Linked DNA regions of Homo sapiens. The protein of the gene in region 2 interacts with the protein of the main gene of each other region in a pairwise test. Each region holds a gene or a part of one and is shown on either strand. Other genes may lie near its edges.

Region 1 (3,823 bases), on a different chromosome or scaffold from region 2:
ATGGTGAAACCCCATCTCTATTAAAAATACCAAAAAATTAGCCAGGCGTGGAGGCAGGCGCCTGTAATCCCAGCTACTCAGGAGGCTTGAGGCAGGAGAAGTGCTTGAAGCCGGGAGGCGGAGGGTGCAGTGAGCTAAGAACACGCCACAGCACTCCAGCTGGGTGACAAAGCGAGACTCCGTCTCAAAAATACATAAATAAATAAACAAATAGTTTTGTTTGGGCCGGGCGTGGTGGCTCACGCCTGTAATCCCAGCACTTTGGGAGGCTGAGGCAGGTGGATCACCTGAGGTCAGGAGTTCGAGACCAGCCTGGCCAACATAGTGAAACCCCGTCTTTACTAAAAATACAAAAATTAGCCGGGCATGGTGGTGCATGCCTGTAATCCCAGCTACTCAGGACACTGAGGCAGGAAAATTGCTTGAACCCAGGAAGCAGAGGTTGCAGTGAGCCAAGATCGCACCACTGCACTCCAGCCTGAGCAACAGAGTAAGACTCTGTCTCAAAAAAAATTTAAAAATTGTTTTGTTTGATAAAGTCTAGATCTCTAATATTTTTATGCCCAAGCCCTTTGGATGCTGTTGTTCTTTTCAGGTTTTGTGTATATAGAGCTAATTAAGCTGAAGAATCCTGGGAATAAAGTTTAAAATAAAGGTTAAAAACATCTCTGAATGTGAACAGTACCCACAGCCAGCACATACCAGCTGATTCCACTGTTGCCTCTGACGCCCCTTGCCACTGTCTTCACTCCAAATGCACCCAGCGCGGAGCAGCCTGCACTCCTGGGGCAGGAGGAGCAGTGAGCAGGTGCGGCTGGCAGGATGAGGCAGGACTGCGGGTCTGCCTGCTCCAGCTGCGTCCACTCTGCACCACGGTGGTGCCTGGTGCCAGGCTGGTGGACAGGCTGGTGACAGGGGACTCAGGGGCGATGGGTGGGCCTCCAGCCCCCAGAGCTGACCCTCTCTCTGCCTGGAGAAACCTGGCTGGCTTGCTTTGAGCCTCTCCCAGCCTGTCACTGGAAATCAGGTTCACCTGGGGCTGGGGTTACAGAAGTAACAGGTCAAGCTAAAGGATGGTCATCAGGGCGGGGAGAGGACCCTGCAGGACACAGGCGAGGTGGGGCCGAATTGAGGGCTTCTAATGGCAAAACTTGATACAATGCAATGGTGTTATTTTCAAATGCATAGAGACATTTAATGTATTTTAAAAATTAATTTTCTCACAAGTGGTACCGCAGGAGGTAAAGAAGTAGAAAACTGGCCGGGCACGTGGCTCACACCTGTAATCCCAGCACTTTCGGAGGCCAAGGCGGGTGGATCACGAGGTCAGGAGTTCAAGATCAGCCTGGCCAAGATGGTGAAACCCCGTCTCCACTAAAACTACAAAAAATTAGCTGGACGTGATGGTGGGCACCTGTAATCCGAGCTACTCAGGAGGCTGAGGCAGAGAATTGCTTGGACCCAGGAGGCGGAGGTTGCAGTGAACCGAGATCGTGCCACTGCACTCCAGCCTGGGTGACAGAGCAAAACTTCATCTCAAAAAAAAAAAAAAAGAAGTAGAAAACCATCATCTCCTCCTTAAGGACTGCACTATAAAGAAGCAGGATAAAATATGATTTGACTTTCAGTTCAAACTTGAAAGTGATGACTTTATAAATCGTGTTTTATATCTCGAGGTGGTTGCCAAGGGAAACCAGAAGAGTAGCTGTATTAATCAGCAAATCCACCTCTGTCTGAAGAATCAGAGGGAGCATGGAGTGTGCATGTGTGTCCAGGGGAAGATCTGCAGAATTGGAGGGAGCACGGAGTGTGCACACGTGTTCTCGGGGAGCAGAGAGTGTGTTTGTGTGTCCAGGGGAAGATCTGCAGAATTGGAGGGAGACGGAGTGTGCATGTGTGTTCCTGGGAGCAGAGAGTGTGTACGTGTGTCCAGGGGGAGATCTGCAGAATTGGAAGGAGCATGGAGTGTGCACATGTGTTCTCAGGGAGCAGAGAGTGTGCACGTGTGTCCAGGAGAAGATCTGCAGAATTGGAGGGAGCATGGAGTGTGCACGTGTGTTGCCGGGGAGCAGAGAGTGTGCACGTGTGTCCAGGAGAAGATCTGCAGAATTGGAGGGAGCATGGAGTGTGCACGTGTGTTGCCGGGGAGCAGAGAGTGTGCACGTGTGTCCAGGGGAAGATCTGCAGAATTGGAGGGAGCATGGAGTGTGCACATGTGTTCCCGGGGAGCAGAGAGTGTGCACGTGTGTGCAGGGGAAGATCTGCAGAATTGGAGGGAGATGGAGTGTGCATGTGTGTTCCTGGGGAACAGAGAGTGTGCACGTGTGTCCAGGGGAAGATCTGCAGAATTGGAGGGAGATGAAGTGTGCATGTGTGTTCCTGGGGAACAGAGAGTGTGCACGTGTGTCCAGGGGAAGATCTGCAGAATTGGAGAGAGACGGAGTGTGCACGTTTGCCCCGGGGGAGCATGGAGTGGGCACGCATGTCCCAGGGGAACATCTGTCCAAGGCAAAGAGGAAGGAGCAAACCCCAGCAACTGTGTCACTTTCCATAACGGAGGCTCTGATGCTCGTCTCCGGGAAGAAAAGCTCCCTCAGTGGAGCCTTCTCCCAACATTAAACATTGGAAACAGAGGGGAGGGCCAGGCCCTGCACCTGCACCCCGGTGTGTCCACGCACCGTGTAGTCTTGAGGGAGTGGCTCAGCCTCTCTGGGCCTCACAATATAACCTCTCTCAAGATGATTCCCCCTCTCAGTAAGTGAGGGTTATTATTATTAGCTCTTAGCAAAAATGAAACAAAGAAAGAACAATGGGACTTTTATGCTGGGAAAAGGACACTGAAGAAACAGCCAGGAGAAAGGATTGGAGAAGACAATGAGGCCCTCATGCTGGGGAAAAGGGTGGGAGGCAAGAGGTGGTGGCATCTGGTGTAGTTAATCCACCCCCCTCCCTGTCACCAATAAACATGTGCAAAAGGCCGGGCGCGGTGGCTCACGCCTGTAATCCCAGCTACTCGGGAGGCCCAGGCAGGCGGATTGCCTGAGGTCAGGAGTTCGAGACCAGCCTGACCAACATGGTGAAACCCCCATCTCTACTAAAAATACAAAAATTAGCCGGGCATGGTACACCTGTAATCCCAGCTACTCGGGGGGCTGAGGCAGGAGAATCACTTGAACCCAGGAGGCAGAGGTTGCAGTGAGCCGATGTGGCACCATTGCACTCCAGCCTGGGCGACAGAGCGAGACTCCATCTCAAAAAACAACAACAAAAAAATGGGCAAAAGGCAGAAAACTCAGCACTCAGAGAAGGGACACAATCTGGTGTTGGAAGCACCAGCTGGGGTGGCGGAAAGGCAGGGCCCTGCTGTGCCCCGACCATATCCTGGGCCAGCCTGGTGACGCCTTCCTTCTACCCCTGCCTGGAGAGAAATGGAACTTCCGAGGGGAAAGAGCGTGAACCGGGGACCCAGCTGCCAGACGGAAATGGGGTCCAGGCCACCAGGAACCAGGGGTACCAGCGTGTGTGAGGTGTGTTGCAGAACAGAAGACACTTCCCTGGGTAACCAGCAGAGCAGTGGGGCCCGCACGGTCCGTGGGCTGAGGTGACAGGCAGAGCAGTGGGGCCCGCACGGTCCGTGGGCTGAGGTGACAGGCAGAGCAGTGGGGCCCGCACGGTCCGTGGGCTGAGGTGACAGGCAGAGCAGTGGGGCCCGCACGGTCCGTGGGCTGAGGTGACAGGCAGAGCAGTGGGGCCCGCACGGTCCGTGGGCTGAGGTGACAGGCAGAGCAGTGGGGCCCGCACGGTCCGTGGGCTGAGGTGACAG
Region 2 (3,823 bases):
GCATAACCTGCTGATTTAAAAAACAGAATCGTTTTAAAAAGTTCAACTTAAGCTAAATAATCAGGGTGATGATAACAATAACCACATTCAACAATTCATATATAAGTACTATATGTTAAGAATTAGTCCATCATCATCACCATCAAAGGTAACAAAAACATTACACATTTTGGCCAGATAATTGGGACATCAAAAAGTAATTACTATTGGAGTTACACAATCTGTAGCCATAGTTATCAGCCCAGCTAGGCTCACTGCTTATTTGTTTTGTGTGTGTGTGTTTATTATTTTTAGTCAAGAGATAATTCAAATATGATAAAATTCACCATTTTAAAACGTACAATTCAGTGGCTTTATTATATTCACAATGTTGCACAACCATCACCACTAAGTCCACAACGTTTTCATTACCCTAAAAGAACCTGTATCCATTAGGAATCATTCCCCATTCCTTCCTTGTCCCAGTCCCTGGCAACCACTAATCTACTTTCTATCTCTATTCAGAGCCTGTTGCATAGCAAATATTTTCTATCCCGCTTTAGAATGGCTAAATGAAATTTTGAGATCATATAACCTATCTATTCATATAAGTTTTAGCTATGCTTACTATGCACCTATTATCATTCTGTGCATCCCACTTAATACAGTTTGTGCATTCCCCCATGTCACTAGCTATGCCTCTACAGTATCGCTTTCAATGGCTGAAGGAATTCCATCAAATAGATATTGCATAGTGCATCTAACTAATCCGGTATAGTTGGAATTTACATTTGAATACTGAGTTTTAAAAAATCTTGGAACCAAGTTTAAACATTTGTGTTTTGCATTTCAAGAAGTGATTTCAAAAAGAAGCCACAGGTATTAAATCCTTTCTTTGCATCCGTATATTTAGAGCCTCACATGGAGGTGAGACAGTGGGACAGAGGAAAGCTGAAAGCCTCTGTGTCTATCACCATACCCTGTGTGTAGAGCAATTAGGAGGCTAGCCCTTTTTTATGATAAGGAATTTGGTAGCCCATATGGTGGCAGTCCCTACATAAACTTTCACTGCTTAGAAGTATTTCCCAGAGATTGTATTTTAAAAGTCCCAGAATAGCTGTGTTAAAGACAAAAGTAAAGTAAGATCAAAAGGGAACTTACGTTTATTTGGCATTGTTTGTGTGGGCAGCACCTTATCCACTCACAGCTAGTCTTCGAAGCATTAAACTTTATTTCAACAAAGTGTAACATTAACATCCCAGCCTGACTTGCTTCTGACTTCTAGCACCAAAAATAGAGCCTTTTCTATGACTTAGGTGCAGAATCTACCCGTATAGGAATTAGCATTTGTATGAAAAGAGCTGAAACCCAGCTTCTGAATCAGCCAGGATTTTATTATTTTATTTTTACTACAGAAGCAGAGACTATCCTAATAAATCCTCCTTTCTTCTCCTAGCACACTTAAAAACCCATCTTTGAGCTCCACTGACTCCATTAGGTTTGAACTTTGGTATTAAGTACACAGGGAGGAAAAGAGTAGGTGTGGGGGTGACGAGAAGGAGAACAGAGAGAAGCACAGGAGAACAGAAAGGAAGGGAGGCAGCTTGATGCTACTGCTGCGGTTATTGCTTCACTCAAAAACAATGAAGCAAAAGCAGACTATGTCAAGAAGCAAAGGTGTGTCAAAGACACCCCAGGCTTAACATGGGGCTGCACAAACCCACAGGAAGCTCACATGCTATTTCCTAGACACTCTCTCACATGAACCACTTTGACTTATGTTTCCGGACTCCTTGATTTAGTTTCTGTTTTAGCGTTTGCACAATAATAATTTTACTACTAAAAGTAAATGTCTTGTAAACCAATGGGAAACATATTGTTTGGCAGAGTTTATAATGTCAGGATTTACGGCTCTAACACTGAGGGTCTCTCTGACCTCGAAGATAACATAATGAAACAGCAATGTGCTGCATATGACTCGTTGTGATTTTTTATTAGTTCTCATAATCGCCTCTTATTAATTTGTATGCACATAATAAGCACTCACCTTCACAGTCTGTCCGGCTTCGGGGCCATCCTAGAAGTAGGAAAAAACCAACAGAGGTGAGAATAGATAGATGGTATCTCCTGCTTATTCAGAAATATCACCCATTAATAATTTAGATGCAATTTCATTGTGTGTTAATTTATAGTATTCTCATGGGGACCATTGGCTTCAAATGTGCGGGATTAGACAGTTCTCCATTTCCGCCTGAGAGTAAGTGCGAAGTTATGTATAAAAATGATATAAATTATCCAGCAAGCCAACTCCTTGCTACTTTTCATGCTCTTTGCTCTAGGCTATGGTTTTAATTGCATTAAAGGAAGGCTGAAAATGTTTGGGGAGGTGAAGTATCACACCTTCTGGTTATGTTTAGAGGTGGTTTAATTAATGTCTGATTACTTTAAGCTTCTACTCAGGAAATCTGCTATAAACATAAGCCATTAAGGAAGAATATGGGGTATTTCATATGGGAAGAGTCCTCTGGCTATTCTGACCTTGTGGGAGACAAATGGTAGTGTTCATTGTAGCTGGACCCTTTTCCCAAACTGGTTCCCTTTCTCTGTTTCTGAAGCTTAGTTGGAAATGGGCAAACTCACCAAGTCACCAGCCATAATATAAAGCAAAAGCAGATACTCAGCTGGTTGAGATGGCCAAACAAAGCAATGGCTCCACAATCAGAAATTCCAAAATAGAATTTCACCTCTGCAACTTTAGCCAGGTTTGTCTACCTCTATGAGCCTGACTAACGGGGTGAGAACTCCCGCCGTAAGGATTAAGCATAACTGTGTATATCAGGGATTTTCAAACTTAGAGTCACAATCCATTAGTGGGTCATGAAGTCAACTTAATGGGTTGCAATCAGCATTACAAACAATGTAAATCAGGTGTTTTTTTTGTTGTTTTTTTTTTTTTTTTTTTTGAGAAAGGGTCTTACTCAGTTGTCCAGGCCAGAGTATGGTGGCATGATGGCGGCTCACTGCACCCTTGACCTCCTGGACTCAAGTGATTCTCCTGCCTCAGCCTCCTGAGTAACTGGGACTACAGGCATGCACCATCATGCCTGGCTAATTTTTGTATTTTTCTTAGGGACAGGGTTTTGCCATGTTGCCCAAGCTGATCTCAAACTCCTGAGCTCAAGAGAGCTGCCGGTCTTAGCCTCCCAAAGTGCTGGGATTACAGGTGTGAGCCACCACACCCAGCCAGAAATCAGATCTTAATAGAATAAAAACTATTAGACTGCACAGAATGAGTAAACATTGTTTTGTGAAACTCTGGTTTCCTTTATCAATATAGGCATATGCATATATTTCATATATGTGTGTCAGGGGAGACAGGCATGATTTTGAAATAAATATGTATCTTACTGTAGGTTACAGTAAAAAATAGTTTGACCACATTGCATATACGAAAGTACTCTAGGTGCTAACACAAGTCAGCTCTTACATTTATGGAATTAACTTTCTAGTGAAAAATGTTCCATAACCAGCAATGGCCATTTCCTATAAATGTGATTTTTATTCTTGTATCTCACTAAACATTAACAGAGGTTTTCATTCACTGCCTTCATTTAGTCTCTCCAGAAACACGGTTTGCAACATAAGCTTGATAAACCCACTCTGAACTGAACTACCTGCCTGAAGGGGACTCAAATGGTTTGACATACAACACATACACACAAAGCATTTGGGGGAAGTTTAGCTACTCTTAACACAGACATGGCAGCAAAAAAAGAAAGAAAAAAATCTGTTTGAGAAGAAGATGAGCACTTTTAGTCAGAGCCTTCATAACCTGAAAACACTG

The links.
Region 1: the proteins of FHIT (region 2) and RAB40B interact in a two-hybrid assay, tested with the Homo sapiens proteins (one large-scale study listed by BioGRID and IntAct).

Annotation. Positions count from the first base shown.
Region 1 is NC_000017.11:82,688,429-82,692,251, forward strand, and holds part of RAB40B (ras-related protein Rab-40B), read right to left. Parts: intron 1-3,823. UniProt on the Homo sapiens protein: RAB40B small GTPase acts as substrate-recognition components of the ECS(RAB40B) E3 ubiquitin ligase complex which mediates the ubiquitination of target proteins.
Region 2 is NC_000003.12:60,009,345-60,013,167, forward strand, and holds part of FHIT (bis(5'-adenosyl)-triphosphatase), read right to left. Parts: intron 2,057-3,823; coding exon 2,027-2,056; intron 1-2,026. UniProt on the Homo sapiens protein: Possesses dinucleoside triphosphate hydrolase activity. Cleaves P(1)-P(3)-bis(5'-adenosyl) triphosphate (Ap3A) to yield AMP and ADP. Can also hydrolyze P(1)-P(4)-bis(5'-adenosyl) tetraphosphate (Ap4A), but has extremely low activity with ATP.